Linked DNA regions of Homo sapiens: region 1 is linked to region 2. The links come from fine-mapping of genetic effects on gene expression. A gene starts in region 2. The other region holds a variant in brackets. All regions are shown on one strand. Distances are from middle to middle. Region 1 overlaps FAM227B (family with sequence similarity 227 member B). Region 2 holds the start of GABPB1-AS1 (GABPB1 antisense RNA 1).

The links. PIP is the estimated chance that this variant, and not a neighbour inherited with it, causes the effect.
Region 1: its variant is fine-mapped to the expression of GABPB1-AS1 in cerebellum (GTEx, PIP 0.99).

Annotation. Positions count from the first base shown.
Region 1 is chr15:49,446,145-49,454,144 of GRCh38, forward strand. All of the region lies in intron 11 of FAM227B (family with sequence similarity 227 member B), which reads right to left. The region is part of intron 2 of FGF7 (fibroblast growth factor 7); the gene reads left to right. Among named protein-coding and RNA genes, the nearest start is that of FGF7, 27 kb to the left of the region's middle. The variant T/TATAA (reference allele first, on the strand shown) is at 3,662.
Region 2 is chr15:50,349,300-50,359,418 of GRCh38, forward strand. It overlaps GABPB1-AS1 (GABPB1 antisense RNA 1), which reads left to right and starts at 4,875. Exons shown (of 1, transcript NR_024490.1): 1 at 4,875-9,013. It overlaps GABPB1 (GA binding protein transcription factor subunit beta 1), which reads right to left and starts at 5,899. Exons shown (of 9, transcript NM_016654.5): 1 at 5,686-5,899. GABPB1-IT1 (GABPB1 intronic transcript) reads right to left here and starts at 5,580. Exons shown (of 1, transcript NR_026891.1): 1 at 1-5,580. RefSeq lists enhancers at 4,883-4,942, 5,681-6,304, 6,373-6,452 and silencers at 5,073-5,282, 5,293-5,542, 6,123-6,172.

The sequences.
Region 1 (8,000 bases), 900 kb before region 2:
ACAACAATTTTCATTGAGGAAGGCTTCACTCACTGATAAATATGGGAACACTTTTTTCTTTTTAAGTTAAGAGCCACTCATCTTAGAAAATCTTAACTGAATGTTACATGGAATCAAAGGGCAATTAGATCTAGTTCATTAAGATTTAAATTAGTGCAGTTCAATTCAGTACTCATAGAGCACCTTCGATGTACAGGTGACATTGTGTAATAATGGATACAAAGATAAACAATGTGACTTTTACCCTTAATGTACTGCCATAGGAAATAATTTGGTAAGTTACGATAGTTGCTAGTAAGTTTCATATGAACAAAGGAGTGATAAGGAGACTGAAAGAGAATATTTCTGGGTGCACCTAAGGAGGTAAAGAACTGGGAAAGGAAAATTTCCTGGTAAAGGTGCATTTGCTTGAAGGAAGGATTGGTTGGAGGATTTCATAGAGGGTAAAGAGCTTTTTTAAAGAAGAGAACAAAATGTGAAAAAAAGGTGCAGATGCATTAGGACAACAGTGAGGAATGGGGATCTCTGTCCTGTCTAGCTGGAGAATATGATGCAAAGAAAGTGGTAACACAGACCTAGTGAACAGATAAAATGCTTCAAAACATATTTTAACTTCATATTATAAAAAGAGAAGATAGCACAAAACAAGGATAAATGGGAGAGACAGAATTAAAGGAAGGATGTTAGGAAGTAAATGGAGAAAGATACAAGCAGGGGGAGAAGTGAGGAAGGAGTGCTCACTAAAGAGAAGGAAAAGCAATACACAGATATATCAAGAAATCAGGAGAGATAAAAGGCAGAGAAATACTCCAGAAGTTCTGAAGTTTCTAGAGATTTTGACAGGTATAACCAGAACACTCACTGGAATTTGGGGGTGCGGGAACTCATCCTGAATAAATGGACTGTGATTCTACTAACATTACCCTAAACACTGAATAAAATCATGTTAAAGGTCAAATATGCAAGCCTGTGGTTTCCTACACTGATATAAGGCTTTCAAAAAGTATTTCTTGTAATAATAATTTAGGTGGACAAAGTGTTATTATATAATCCACCAGGCCCATTGTAAATAATCTTGCACTATATTGTTATTTCTTTTGATACTTGTAAGAGCTTGAGAATATTAACTAAGAAACTCTGTAACATGGCTGGCAAAATACTCTCTTATCACTTTGAACTTTACTTAGAGGTAAATACATTTTGAGCTTCTGTGAGGTTAAGAAGAAGTAAGCAAAGATCACAGAGCTAGTTAGTGATAGAGTCAGATTTGGAACATATGTTTCTAGATACCCAGATGTGCATTACAAGAGTCAAATATGGCAGCTAGTATAGAAATCATGCTAGAATAAGAGATTCTCAATCTTAATGTGATTTAATTACTAAGTCTTGGTAGCATATGCGTTGATGTATTGTTTGTCAGGTTTAAAATACATGTTCACCATCAGTGGTGTATTTGCTTGGGGTGAATTTTCTGGTAAATTTATGCAAATTGATAGATTTCAAAGCTATCTCCTTCATTACTGAAGAAGATGATTTGGGTAAAACATGCAATCAATTCATGGATAATTGTTAATACTTGAGAAAATTTTTATGTGGAATGACTTTGTCCTCATTACTGCTTGCTCCAAACTAATTCAACTAACTGGTCACCAACATGATGGAGAAAACATGAAAACATAAAATCCAAGATTCACAGAACGAGAATGAATTGAATAAACAATAGGTTTGACTTTTGTTTTTCATGCCAATTAATATAAGGTAGAGGTAGAATCCTCAGGCTCGTGTCCTTTAAAGATCTAGCTTTTACTTCTGCAACCAGAGAAGAACTTCATCATTCAAAAGCTGCTCCAGATATCTTTTGATTTGAGAGTTTGAAATTATTTTAATGTCCGAGAGCATATACAGATTTATAATCAGTAAATAACAAACTTATCAGAACTTCAAAAGACAGAAATATGAAGCAACATATTATGCTCCTATTTACATAACATATTTGAGGGCCAGATGAATGAGGGTTATCTCAGGATATCTATCATAAATTACTAGAACTTTCTTTTCAACCTTCTCCCTAACATTTCACTATTGTTGTCCCCCCAACTCTTCTGTTTTTTCTACATCTCCTTCCAAATTTGTCTTCTTTCCTGTTACCTTTTCTCCCTCTTTTCTTTTCCTTATTCTTTTTTCTCTTCCCTTCTCTCCTTTCTTTCCATTTAACTCTTTTAATTCCTTTTCTCCATTTCTTTGCTTTAACTAACCACAATATAGAACTGATGTGTATATTAATTGTTCATTAAAGTGACTGGGTAAATTCCTTGTGCTTAAATTTAAAAAGCAATTTTAAAAGAGTATATTTATTGTTTTAAAAAACTCCTAACATAAGTTAATCAAAATTCACAGAAAAATGATTAAAAATAAATATACTAGATTACAATAGTTATATTTCTGGTTATTCTCTTCACTTTTTTTCAGTGATTTCCAAATATTCTTTGATGAGCATATACTATTTTTTGATGAACATCCACATATGTACATATATATATATATAATAAACTATGTTGCTTTTAATACATGTGGCTGTCAATTTCCTCTCAGTCACACTCTGATAAGATAAGGAAGGCTCCCCCAAATACCCAGTAGTCTAAGCAACCCAAGACAGATAACTGGCAAAACTTTTCTTGAAGCTCTCCAAGAATGAACCCTCTACAATTTTCTTTAGCAGTCGATTCCAATATTATATTACCCTAACAACTGGATACTTTCTCATATCTAGGGAAATTACTCCTGCTTCAGTTTAAGCCCCTTTCCTCATGCTCTTTTTTTTGCATATGAATAATATGGATATGCCACTAAAAAAAACACTTTCATAGGAGAAATAACATTCTTTTCTGTCTGCACTCATCCCCTTGATAAGTAATTTTTGGCTATTTCAAATGCTGGTCTGGCTTACAGATAGGAATTCAAACAGAGACTTGAATGATACCTTCAGTCTGTAGAGAACTGCTCACTCTAGCACTATCTCAGACTGCATTACTAAGTCTAAGTTTTTCTTGTTACCTAATTTCCACCTGCATAGGCTCATATTGGGCTCCTAGTATTTATTGCTAGTTATTTTTATATGGAATAAAGCAATCATGAAATCAATCTAAAATAAGACCACAAATCAGTAAATGTTTTTTACTTCTATACCTACAAATTGTCCTCTATAGGACAGTGATTTTAGTATATAAAGACAGTTATATTTCTATTTAATCTTATCTTCTCTAGGCTAAGCAATGTAAATTCACTCAACCATTACACTTAAACATGATTTCTCAGATTTTCACCACCCACCAGTCCTCTAAGAATACCACCTAAAATAGGATACCCAGAATGCAATGCTCCAAATTGCACAGGGTGGGGCCAGAATCAGCAAGATTACTGCCTCCTTGGCAACCTTATACTTCTATTAAGGCAGCCAAGGTTGCCTTCCCATTAATATAGTTTAAGGCAAATATGCCATACTGTCGGCTCATCTTAAGCTTGTCCAGGTCCCTTTCAGATGAATTGCTGCCAAGTTAGGTCTCTTTCGCTTCTATACTTGTGCAATTGCTTTTTGTATTTACAGTGCCTTGCTTTTCTCTTTCTTAAATTTTGTTAGCTTCATCCCAATATCATAGTCAAT[T/TATAA]ATAAAGATACATGTAAACGAGATCAGATATCCATAAAGATTACTTAACTTTAGAGATACTGTCATCCTGTGAATTCTAATGTTAAAATTTCTGAGTTGGAAAACAGGTTTTTAGAAATGTATGGAGGGAACACTCCACAGACATATGCAAAGAAAATGTCATGCTCAATCACAAACTAGACTGTGATGCGCCATTCATACAAATGTGGTTGCATGAGCCCGTAAGGAATGGATCAGCAATGCATGTGCCAAAGTTGTATAAATCCATAAGACTGAGAAGAAACAAATTAAAACGGAGTTGTGGAATAAACATGCCTTCTTACAGGGAAATTCACTATAAAGAAATTTGCAATAATGGAATTAGAATGGCAGAAGAGTGAATTTAGTTTCTATATCAAGACTCAAGTGACAGAAGAATAACAATTGAACAACTGATGAAGTGTGTTCATTTCCCTCCTCATCATCTTTTAGCAGTTTCCTGTCAATACAAGATAACTCTTTCTTCCAAATCTTGGAATTTTTATTGTGTTCCTGACTGTCTAGAGTTCATTTCTCTGGCCTATGTCACTGATTATGTTGCTAAAGATATTTTTTTTCCCTTATACTGACCCTTCAAAACCATCCTGAATGCCATTTTTTAAGCCCCTCCTCTTAGCCAGCTACACCATTAGAGAGCCATTTTATAAACTGACATTATTAATGGTTAATAGCTCAATGTGTAAACTTTCTCAGAAATATTTACTCTTTAGTTATGTGCCCCTGAAAATATGATGCTTAATGTAGAGCAACTAGTTTCCAGTGGTACAATTCAAGGGCTGCAGCCAGCAAGAGTCTGGATAAGAAAGACATTTCAGAGAACAAAAACTTCCTTATGCCTCTTGATTCCCACATCACAGGTTTTCAATTACATTCTTGATCTTTAAATCCAGTTTAACAAAACTAATAACACTGCGTTTGTTATGATAGTTCATTTAAAAATAAACCTCATCTGTTTTACTGTAAAATCTGTTACAGGCAATTGGATAGCTTAGGTTTTTTGTCTGAAGCTGCCCAGTTATTCTTTTCCACATGTGGGCTGAACCTATTTGGGAAAAAAACTAAACTAGAGATATAGTTAGTATAGCTACAGCTAATCAACTCCTTTGAATGCTCCTTCCCCCAAAAATATATTTCCCTGGTCAGTGCCATCTGTATGTGTGTGAGTGGGGAAATATATGTCTAAAAACTGGTTTTTTTTTAAATGACAGTTTAATTCAATCAAAATTTTAAGTCAGATATAATCCCATGACCTAGAAAAAGTATATCAAAAACCAATTTCCTTTAGGGTTTATATGTATTTGTTTCCAAAATATTAACTAAGAATATGGATACTTACATATAAAATAAATAATACGGTCATTTAAAATTTTAACCAATTAGAGCTTGCCAATTTCTACAGAAAGTGTGACAACTACATATATTGCATATCATAGAGGCTAAGGTTTTGTGAGAGAAGAAATTATAAAAACTAAAAAAGTTTTATTAGGCACAAAATTAGTATCATAATGATAAAGTATTTTTTCTTCTGTAAAGTGTTGAATAGTATATATTTTTAAGCAACATTCAAAATTACAGAGAAGTCTATGCATTGCTGACAGACATATATGTATATATGTTTGCTTAAATCTATATGTATATATAGATTATAACATCAACAATGAGATTAAATTCTGAAATCTCAACTTTACTAAAATTTTAGTATTTATATTTTTTTCTAAATCTTCTTAGAATTCCTCTTCAATTCACCTTTAAATGTACTGACTACACATTCATTGACCTTGATAATTTCAGTAAACATGAAGTGAAACACAGCACAAGCCAAACTGAACTCTAATTTTTATGTACGTCTCAAATCATGAAACATGTCTTCTAAATTTGAAGCCTTTATTGGGGATTAATACTCCTAAATTTTATTTAGAATCACTTGTTAAGTAAGTTTTAAAAGTAATACTTATATAGCAATCAAGAGCGGTCAAGTAAATCTTTTACCTAGGAGGAAAAAACTAAGACCCACTTTGTAATCTCTTAGGAATTATTTTACATGCGGTTCTTCCAGTAAGTCCAGGATCCAGGATGCTCTCAGAATTTGAGAGACTGTGTTTAATAACTAGTGAAAAAATGCTATTTGAGAAACTTTCTCTCAATATGATATCTTATATCACTACTTGACATAGATTCAAAATTTGATTCAATACCAACCAGATTTTTTTTTTTTGAGATAGAGTCTTGCTCTGTTGCCCAGGCTGGAGTGCAATGGCATGGTCTTGGCTCACTGCAGCCTCTGCCTTCTAGGTTCAAGCAATTCTCCTGCCTCAGCTTCCTGAGTATCTGGCACTACAGGTGCATGCTACCATGCCCAGCTAATTTTTGTATTTTTAGTACAAATATTACTGGACTGGGGTTTCACTGTGTTGGCCAGGATGGTCTCGAACTCCTGACCTCAAGTTATCTGCCTGCCTTGGCTTCCCACTGTTCTGGGATTACAGGTGTGAGCCACTGCACCCGGCCCCAACCAGAATTTTAAATGCCAGTTACCTTACTATTTCATATTTGTGAAAATTAAAATGAACCCTTGTTAACATCTATTTCTATACTTGCTATGGGAAAAAATGTTTGGTAAACAAATTAATAAGTAAAAAGCTGCCAGAGAAACTGGATGTTATTTTCTGGTTCTTCATAAAAAGATCTATGCAGATTTTTTAATGCAGTTACAAGTTATTATTGTTTATTTAACTTAAGCAACTAAAGAAAGCTCTTTTGGATGCAGTCTTTAGGAAATATAATGAAGATACCTTAGTTTGGGTTCAAATCTGAGATTTGAGAGAAATCCTATTATTTCTGGGCAAATGAGTCAGTCTCTCTGAATCTTGGTTTCTTTATTGGGTGACTGAGATAGTATCTAATCTATGTGCTTACAAGATTATTAAAATAATGAATACTGTATATGTGAATCACAGCACAGGGTGCAGGATAATATAAGCACTCAGCAAACGTTAGCTGTTATATGCCTTGCTTACTATGGTATAAACAAAAAGATGATAAAACTAAATTTCTTTGAATATTTTACATATTTCAAAGTCAGGAATTTATCACTTTAAATTTTTATCACTTTAAAAGGTTTTCCTTCCATAGGGCCCAAATTCACAAAATTACTCTAGTTAAAAATTGTACTGCTAATATAATAATCACTTTTCTCCTTTCTCTTACCACTGTGGAAATGTAATTTTTATAAATAATCTTAGGTAATCATCCTAAAATATTGCATTGAGGTCAACAAAAAGTGGTAGTAGCATGTTTGGTTCCCATTTTATATTCTCTGTAATAACAACTGTATTTTTCTTTTTTTAAAATTTGAATATGTTCTGTTTAATCTAATACGTCATTTCAACACATAATCAGTATAAAAATATATACATATTTTCATTATTATTATTTTTTATTTTAAGATGGGATTTCACCATGTTACCCAGGCTGGTCTCAAATGCCTGAGCTCAAGCCATTTGCTCACCTCCGCCTCCCAAAGTGTTGAGATTACAGGCATGCGCCACCGTGCCTGGCCCAGTATAAAAATATTAATGAGATATTTTACATTCTTTCTTTTTGTACAGGTCCTTCAAAATCCAATGCATGTTTTTCCTTTACAACACACCTTAATTCCAACTATTCACATTGCAAGGGTTCAGTAGCCACATGTGGCACATGGCTCTTATGCAGGACAGTTCAGTGTAGACCATGTAACCGTCAGGGACCATGTGTTACTCTGCTCATGACAACCATATTTTTCTGCTCATACATTCCGAGGTAATTGTATCTAGACTCATGACTTCAATTATGACCCACGTGCTGTTTAATCTGAAATCTGAAATTTCATGTCTCTTCCTTTTCTTGAGCTCTTGTTACATGTATCTAATGGTCACTAGATAGCTCTCCTGATGACCTCCAGGAAATTCAATTTCAGCACGTTCCCAATTGAATTCAGGATCTTCCCCCTCAATCCTGCTCTTACCTTATACATTTTACATAAGAGTTCTGATATTACTCAGTTGACCAAAGTGGAAGCCTTGCATTCCTCCATCTCTTCTAGCTCCCATTTTTAATCACCAAGTCCTACTATTCTATCACTTGAAATGTGATAGAACATTTTAATATTCTCTTAAACTGAATCCTCAAATCTCCTAGGAAGTTTATATGGCTGGGGAGGCAGTGTGGTGTAATAGAAAAGATGTGTCAGACAGGCGTAGGTTTGAAACTCTGCTTTACCTCTAATTAATGTACAACATAGATGGGGCATACTTTTATA
Region 2 (10,119 bases):
AGACCCTAAGAGTTTGAATGGTGGACTGTGATCCTATAATTGCTAACATTTATTGAGCTATTAACTGTTATGTTTCAGGTACTGTTCTGTTCACTTTATATGAAATAACATTTAATCTTTCCAATCATCATGAGCTAAGTATTATAATAATCCACATTTTACAAAGAAGGAAACTGAGCCACGGAGAGATTAAGTAAACTGCCTAAAATCACACAGCTAGAGTATGACTAACTGGGATGACACTGGGATGAATATTTAAAATATTACACATAAGAGTAACAACACACAACAAAATAATTGATTATGGTAGGGTGGTAGGAGTGATATGTTTCTCTACTCAATTGATATTACTTCTAGAATAAGGAATCAAACAAAAAATTACAAAACACTACATGCATTTACAAATTCTCATGTACAATTTCTACAAACTTGCTTAAAATGCAGAGTATAAAACCCAAATTTCTCAGCTTATGCTAACACATTTAATTTTTTATTGAAAAGTTACATCTTAATATCTTAATTACAACATGATAGATAATTTATATTCATTGTAGAAGTTAGAAAATTTGGATAAGCAAAAAGAAAACAATCACCTGTAAAACTACACTCAGAAATAACCATTTAACAATTTGGCACATATCCTTCCAGACATAATATATTTTTGGGTTTTTTTACCAAAATGGAATCATGTTTTTAAATTTATTTTTTCTCACTTACATATACCAAGACATCCTTTCATGTCTTTATATTATTCTATCATCATTTTCATGGCTGAGAAGGCAGTACCCCACTGTAGGGATGGACCCTAACAATCACTGTGAAACATTTAGGTTGTTTACAATTTTACCATATAATGATCAATAGTACTGGCTCTAGAGTCACACTGGTTGGATTCAAGTCCTGGCCCTAACACTTAACTAACTCAGGTACCTTGAGCAAGCAACCTCATTTCTCTATGCCTGTTTTTTCTTCTGAAAAGCAGAAATAGTACTACCCACTTCATATGATTACCGTGGGGCTTAAAGGCATTAATACACAGCTTTTATAATCAACAATACTGCATCTAGTATGCTCACAATTAAATATTCACACACATCTTTACTACATCAAAAAAAAAATTCTTTAAAGGGAATTTCCATGTCAGAAGGTATGCCAATTTTTAAAGCTGCTGAATCTACCAAATTACAGTGTGGTTTAAAGCCCTTCATTAAATAGCCTTCTCACTTAATACTCATTTCTCTTTATCCAGGAAGGCAAAAACTATTATCAAGTTAACCAGTTTGTTTCACTCAATTAGCTTTTTGTTCTTCCACCTGTAAACCTCGGCATATTTAATAAAACCTCAAAGTTTATAGGTAACTTGAAGACACCTAGCTCAAATTCTCCTTCAGTACGATTCCTCTACTCTAGAATCCCCAATTTGTCAGTGAACAGGAACAGCCTACCACCCAAAACAACTCATTCTATTTTCACAATTTTGAGGAAATTTATCTTGAAAGAGAATTGAAATCTGCTTCTTTTAAACTTCCACCCACTGACCCTAGTTCCTTCTGGTCAAGTCAAATCTGATCCTTCTGCATGACAGAACTCCAAATCCTTAAAAGTGGCTGTTACTTCTTAAAAGAAGCTCCTCTTCTTTAGGTCAAACATCCCATTTTTTCAACTTTTTCTCATTTCCATTTCTCTCATGATCAAGGTCCTCGTTTATGCTCTACAGATAAGTGATTTTGACACTTAGGTGTCTACCACCTTGGAAATGAGAAAAATTAAGGTCCGTTCCTACCCTACTTAAGTTTGGGCCTCTGTGTGGCTTTTTATTAGCTCTCCAGATGATTCTGATAAAGTCTGAGAATGAATACAAGGTCTCACTTATGATAGTATGCTACCCAAAAAGCCAACACAATACCCCAAATATAATATAACTAGTACACAGTAAAGTGGGGCTAACACCTTGCTCTGTCAATAAGCTGTTCTACCAACTTCAGAATTATTCACAGATGGGTGTGTTGGCTGACGCCTATAATCCCAACACTTGGGAGGCCAAGGTGGGAGGATCACTTGAGTCCAGAAGTTTGAGACCAGCCTGGGCAACACAGTGAGATCTCGTCTCTACAAAAAATTAAAAAATTAGCCAGACATGTTGGCAGGTACCTGTAGTCCCAACTACTCAGGAGGCTGAGGCAGAGGCAGGATCGCTCGAGCCTGAAAGGTGGAGCTTGCAGTGAAGTATAATCGCACCACTGCACTAAGCCTGGGTAACAGAGAAAGCAAGACCCTGTCAAAGAAAGAAGAGGTGCAAAGGGGAAAACAGGGAGGGAAGGAGAGAGAGGGAGAGGGACAGAGGGAGAAGGAGAGAGGAAAGAGGGAGGGAGGGAGGGAGGGAGGGAGGGAGACAGAAAGGTGCACTAGCCCACCAACTGAACTGACAGCTGATTGCACCAAAGCATCTTCTTTGTATAGAGCACTGTGATGTCAACACTGAGAAAAAACACAGGCCCTAATACTGATCTCATCTAGTGCTAGATTTACCTTCTAGAAAGCATGATGGAACAAACATCTTCAGAAAACTATAATACTAATTGTAGCTATCCCAATGTAGGCACATCAGAGCTATAGAAACATTGTGATTACTAGCTGGAAACCATACTAGTTGTTGGGGAGGAGAGGGGAGCAGAGGGATGACACTAAGGAAACTAAGTTGCTCTCAACTTCAAGATTTTGTGTGGGTTTGTTTTTCAACGTTTGCAAAGTCAGAAGAGATGGAGGCCATCAGTGAGTTCATCTGAACTCAGGCTACTTGCAAACAGAGACTGGGTAACTGCCTCGTGCACCCTCAAAAATAAATTCATGATGCAAAACTTCATGTAATTTCTGAATTTCTGAATTCCTCATGACGTGCACTTTACCTGTTACCTGTTAATATTTCTGGTACTGAGGGGCAAAAGAAAAAAGTAAAAAAAAATTCATGGTACAGGAGATGTGGTCCATTACAATGACACAATGTTATGGGAAAAAACACACTAAAACCAAGCATACTTTTTTTTTTTTTTTTGAGACAGAGTTTCGCTCCTGTTGCCCAAGCTGGAATGCAATGGCGCTATCTTGGCTTATTGCAACCTTTGCCTCTCTGGCTCAAGCGATTCTCCTGCCTCAGCCTCCCGAGTAGCTGGGATTACAAGCGCGCACCACCACGCCCAGCTAATTTTTTGTATTTTTAGTAGAAATGGGGTTTCACCGCGTTAGCCAGGCTGGTCTCAAACTCTTGACCTCAGGTGATCGGCCCGCCTCCACCTCCCCAAGTGCTGGGACTGCAGGCGTGAGCCACTGTGCCTGGCCAAACCAAGTGAACTTAACCAAGATCCAATCTATTTTCGTTTGAACAGCAAACATTAAAAGTACACCTGGTATTTTCTAACAATTACACGAAGAATGACCAGATGCTTCCTGTTGATGGAACAGTAGAGAACTATAGACTGACAGATTCAGACTACAGTTCACAGAAACAACTGGAAACAAACTTAGCTTCCTTTCAAAGCCATTAAAATACGGCCTTAAATTTTTATGCATTAATCAATTAAGTATAATTGTCTCCCAATAAGTATAATTGTCTCCCAACCTAGAAAACCCAGAATGATTCAGAGAGACAAAGAACTCTAAGGATATGTCTCTGCAAACTGTTCGTTTCACCAAAGGATTCACTGCAGAATTAATTTTCTGTAAAATCTGTACCTCCTATAATTTTCAACATGTTCTATCTTTAAAGATAACATTTACACAAGTGTTGATAGCATATGTGGAATTCACGTGTTACTTGTGTAAATCATTATAAATATGTAATAGAATTAAATGTTTTAATCACTTAAGAATATCTTCGAATGTTCCTGAGTCTCCGAGATCATAGGCAGATTATGCAGTCTTCATCTGTGATTTTGTTTAGTCACCTAAATTCCAACTTTTAAAAAAGTTAGAGCCCAGTAAAAAAAGTATGGGAATCAATCTTATTCAGTCTTGTTAAAATGTGTCTTGCATAACAGCTTGATTTGACTTGTATGGTGAAAGCACGGTAAGAATGACACATTTCTGTTTTTTGGTTTTTTTTTTAAAAAAGTATGAGTGTACAGTGGAGTGTTCCAGAGGTTACATGGTGTGCTAACCACAACAGTCTGACGTAGATCTGAGAATCTTCTATTAAACCAGGCATTAAAAAGATTTGCAAAAATGCAAGATGTCACTCTTATCATCTATGTTAACATGTAATGGATTTATTTTTTGTTTTTGGAAAAAAAAAACCAAGAGAAAAGAAAATAAAGTCATCTTTAGTTTCCTTAAATTCAAAGTCTGAGCCTGAAAATGGAAGTATCAAAGCTGATGGTTATACGTCAGTGAGAAAAAAATTTAAACCAAGCTGGGTGGGTCTTTACATGAGATAAACTATCTACAGGAAAGAATGACCACTAACTTCTGCATAATAAATGAGAGTGGATCTTTTAATTCTGAGATGGCAATGTACTTTACAAGGACCATTTACAGACTACATCAAACCTTTTTCTAGATAAAAAACGTACTTCAGTAACTTGCCTGAATTGAGAGAGCAAAACAGTCCGGAGAGAAAACTTAAAATGTTTCCACATTATCAAGCCCCCTTCAGAAGTACTGTGGTCTCGGCCCCTCCTTTGAACAGATGTCCGCTCGCCACAGTCCAATCAGGTTTAAAGCAAGAGTATTTGTACTGAAAACAAGCTTAAAGTGGGAAGACACACACAAAGCAGGCCTGTATCATTCCTTTGGTTTCAGTTTTCACGATGCACCCTTGAGGCTAGGCACGCTGATTCAACACACTTGGAGAGCTTCACCGAAACACACTAAACACACAGTGATGAACTGTGCCCTGGCAGAGATGACCTGGCAAAATTCTCAACTTCTTCCCTGAGGCAGTGCACCCGCAGTTCTCGGCGGCGAAGTCTTTGGGGCAGAAGTCCCGAGCCTTCAGAACGGCAGGCTTCTCCCCCTCAGGACTCCAGTCCCCGCGGCCAAGGCTGTCGCTGCGGGGGCCCCGCGCGGGACTGGCCAGGCTCTTCCATTAACCCTGTCTGGTCCGGCCGATCCCGCCGCGACCCGAGCGCCTCTCGGCCCCGCAGCACAGGGCGCCCAGGACCCGCCACCCTCGCCGCCCGTTCCCCTCTCCGGAGAGCCCGGCGGGGCCGTCAGGCTGCCGAGACAAAGGGTACCGCGGCGCCAGAGGCCGAGGCCCAGCCGCGCCTGCCTTCCTCTTTCTCCCGCCCACTGCCAACCTCCAGTCGCCCGCAGAACCTCCGCTGCCTCGGCGCGACCCCATCGCCACCCCGGGGCTGCCGCTCGGGACCGGCAAGCCGGGTAGCCGCGAGGCGGCCGCGGCATGCTAGGGCCGAGGAGGGGGCGGCGGCCGCCACCATGTCTGCCCGCCCCTCCCAGAAGCAGTGTGCCCAGCGGACAAAGCGCAGCGGCGGCGCGGGCGCCCAGGCCGACCCCGCCGACCCCCGCGGAATAAGCGGGGCCAGGAGCCCCGGAAACCCGGCGCCTTAATGCAATAAACAGGAAATCGCGGGGATGATCTGGGTTCCGGGGGAAGTGGAATTATTTTTTACCAGCGAAGAGATCAACTTCCACATCCGGTGGTAACAGGGCCCTACACAGACCCGCACTGACCTGGAAAAGCTTCGGGAGCGGCGACGGGAAGGCAGCAGGAGGTGGTGCGGGGACCCGAGGCGCCTCGTACCCGGCCGGGCTGACGCGGCCCCGCTACACACAAAGCGCTTCAGCTGCACAGGGCGCTATTTTCCGAAAATGCCGCGTCTGGTCGGCGCCCAAAATCCCCACCGAAAAGTCCCCCGTGCTGCGCGCGGAGGGACACATGGTGTGCGAGTGAGTCAAGCTCCCAGCATCCCTCCCGGACCCGGCCCTCTTCAGCTCATCGCCCGAGGATTTTCCGCCTCTGCCCTCGTCGGCAGATCCTGCTCCTACCCACTCCCTAGCTGTGTTCCCGCGGGGAGAGAGGGGAAAGAGGGTCTGATTTTTTAACGAAGGGAAAGAAAATATGCCATTTCTAGCGCTTCAGCCACACAAAGAAAGCGGCGGAATGATCCGCTCTCGGCGACCGCAAGTCCCGGCTCGCCCGGCGCCTGCGCGGCAGCGGGGGTGGGAGCTGCGGACGGCCATGTGCGCGGCGGAGAGGCCGGGTGGCCACCGAACCTTCCCGCCTGTTCTGCGGTGGGTAGGAGTTTGGAAACTAATGTTCCTGTGCTAACCTTCGTGTCTCTGTGACATGACTGTTGAAAGACGGAGAGTGCGGAATCTTTGGAGTTTTAAGCTTGCCAACTGTGCGGCCTAGCAGAATCCTGGGAGACGGAAGGACAGCCAAGAGGCTAGGATTTACCTTTAAGTGTCCCTAGATTCAACTAGGCAGACTGGGACGGGAGACGCTGTGAAGGTACCAGGGAAGGAACGAGTGAGGTTCCTTTTCCACTTTTTCATAAACTCAACAGTCAGGTTCATGACGAAGATATAGATATTTCTGTAGATTTTTTCCCCAACATTCTAATTATGCCTCATGTTTCGTAGATCCTAGTAACTGCTTGGATTACTGCCACCTCAGAGGTAGAGATCTGTTTTTCCGTGGCTGGAATGCCAAAAATTTTGTTGTATTTTATTAAGAAAGTAGCAAAAGTTTGGAGATTTGCAAAGTTAAAAAAAAAAAAAGCATTATGAACTTAATCTAGATGTGATTTGCTAAGGAACTTAATATATTGATATGTTTTTCACAGGGGCGTCTGGGCATGGCTTTCCCAACCTAGTAACTGCAACTTTTAGCATCCTACATGTAGGACTTGGGAATATGTGAGACAGCGCCAAGAATTTAATCCAGGAGAATTGACAAGCTTAAATGAAATCCATATTGCCCACTGATTTTGTGCAGCTTCAGATAAGTAATCTTTCTCCACTTAGCCTTTTGTAACAATTGATGTAATAAAGGTTTGTAGTCTTTGTGTAATTTATTAAAGCATTGTGCCTAAAATAGAAAAAAAGCATAGGAACCATAGGCTGTGTTTTCTTTTGATTTAATATTTTCATTTCTTCAGTTAATAGAAATTTGCCAAATTCTGATGTTTTTCTGTAGCATTATTTGAATGAGCATTGTTTATTTGAGTGAACATTCAGCTAATTGTTACAGAATCGTTGCCCCCATTAATCTTAGGCTGTAGAATGTAGACAAGTAAATAGGCATCATCAGTATGATGAGAGTGAAGCTACTTAATACTGTGGAATCAAATAAAGGAGGAACCCCTTACTAAACCAAGAGGGAGGAATAAAATGGAATGGGACTAGAGAAGCAATTAGCTTTAATAAGGGTATTATGGAAGACTTTCTAGATGAGAAGCAGTAAGTACAGATGTTTGGAGGCAAACACTAGAGAGATTGTTGGGTAAAGAAGACAATGCTGGAGGTCTACTTGTGAAGGCCTTGAATGCTATGTGCAGAAGTCAGCTTCTGAGAACCAGGAAGAAGATATTGAAAGATTTTAAGTAGAAGAATCATAGGATTGAATTCATTTTAGACAGATCACTGTTACACAAAAATTTGAGGCAAACAGAAGAGTTTGGAGTAAACAGTAGGCTGTGAGCCAGTAATGACTTGGACTGAGTTGGTAGCAGGTAGGTGTGAAGAAAATAAAGTGGTTATTGGGAGATTTGGTTAACTGAAAATGACTGAGGGAGATAGATGTCAGGTGACTCCCAAGTGAGTTGGTGGAGCAGCTAGGAGGATAGTAATGTCTTCACTGAGATTAGAAACAAAATAAGAGAATATATGTTAGGGAAGGAAGAAGTCTTTGTTTTGACCATGTAAAATTTGAAGTGCATGTGAGCCAACCAGTCATATATGTGTAGTGTGCAATTAGATATTCATTCAACACTGTTGGAAGAGCACCTACTCTGTGCCTGGTACTGTTCTACACACTGAAATAGGTAAAGCAGCAGCAAAACAAATGGTTCCTACTCCTGTTTTTTAGAGGGAAACAGCATATAAACAAGTTTTAAAAATAAGAGGAGAGAGAATATCCCATAAATTCGTGAAGAAGGCTGGGTGCAGTGGCTCATGCCAGTAATCCCAGCAGTTTGGGAGGCCGAGGTGGGTGGATCTCCTGAGTTCAGGAGTTAAAGAGCAGCCTGGCCAACATGGCAAAACCCCGTCTCTACTGAAAAAAATTAGCTGGGCATGGTGGCACGCTCCTGTAATTCCAGCTACTCCGGAGGCTGAGGCAGGAGAGTAGCTTGAACCCAGGACACGGAGGCTGCAGTGAGCCGAGATTGCGCCACTGCACTCCAGCCTGGGCGACTGAACGAGACTCCGCCTCAAAAAAAAAGAGTTTGTGAGGAAAATTAAAAGCTGATTGGATAAAGTGTTACTCTGGGGAAAAGAGAGCAAACTTTTGGTGGTTGGTTGATCAGAGATGGCCTCACTGAGAAGGTATTAGAAAGGACAAGAACAGTGTGAGACCAAAGGGAATAGCTGGGCAAAGGCCCTAAGGTGAAAAATTTGTTGTGTTTAGGGAATAGCAAGGTCAGTGTATCCGAAATCTAGTGACCAAAAGAAGGAATGATAGGAGGTGAAGTCTTCAGCCTCAATAAGAAGGTGAAGTGCACTGGAAGCCATTGAAGGATTTAAGAAATGGAGTATCTGGCCGGGCGCGGTGGCTCACGCCTGTAATCCCAGCACTTTGGGAGGCCGAGGTGGGAGGATCAAGAGGTCAGGAGATGGAGACCATCCTGGCTAACATGGTGAAACCCCGTCTCTATTCAAAATAAAAAATTTTTTTAAAAATTAGCCAGGCGTGGTGGCGGGCGCCTGTAGTCCCAGCTACTCGGGAGGCTGAGGCAGGATAATGGCGTGAACCCAGGAGGCAGGGCTTGCAGTGAGCCGAGATCGTGCCACTGCACTCCAGCCTGGGCGACAGAGCGAGACTCCGTCTCAAAAAAAAAAAAAAAAAAAAAAGAAATGGAGTATCATGGACTAGGATAGTAGCAGTAGAGATGAGGGAAGTGGATGGATCCAAAAAGCTGACCTATCTTGCTTACCAATTAAATGAGGAAAGGGAGGAATCAATAGTGATGCCTAGGTTTGGGGCATGTTGTCTAGGTGGAATTAATTTTAATTACACTTTTAACCCCTAGCATATCCAAATATTATTTCACATGTGATCAACATAAAAAATTACTAAATATTAAAAATATTTTACATTATCTTTCTCATAACTAAGCATTTGAAATCTGGTGTGTATTTTATACTTATAGCATATCTCAGTACTTGATTTCATAAAATTTCCAGCTGAAAAAATAGATTCACGTACCCAAGTCGTTCCAAGCATACTTAAAAGTTTTACGGTAATCGAATCGTGTATATTTTTAAATTTTATTTTAAATTAAAGTTAGGATTATGAATTCAGTTCCTAAATTAGCCTCATTTCACTTCTGCATTTCAAGTGGGACAAGTTATTACCATATTGGACAATGCAGTCTAGTGAAGTAGAGGATAGTGGAAAGTCAGACTTAAAAAGTTGTTTAGAACCAGCTCTGGAAGGCCTTGGATGTCAGATTAAAGGACTGAGATTTTACCCTTGAGTCAGGCAGAATAATGGATGGTTTTTGAACTAAGGAGTGACACAAGGTTGTGCTTATGACTAGAAGGAGGCCACTAGGTGGCCAGCTGGTGAGTCAGGACACCCTTCAGTTGCTTTGACTTCAGCCCTGTGGATTCAAAGTCTGATTTTTGTCAGCGCTCTAGAGCAGTCTCACCAAAAGTGTGGTCCACAAGGCAGTGCCAGTCTGTAAGCCCTTTGTTACACATCCATGTCAAGGCATTTACAGAAAGTAAGAATTTAGAAACTTATAGCAGTTTAACAGACTAATTTTATTTCTGTGGGTCTAATAAAAATTTGAGGGATTGTACTTTGCATATTCTTTATTTCCCTTTTTTTGTTTGTTTTTTGTGTTCGAGATGGGAGTCTTTTTCTGTCGCCAGGCTGGAGTGCAGTGGTGCAGTCTCGGCTCACTGCAACCTCTGCCTCCTGGGTTCAAGCGATTCTCC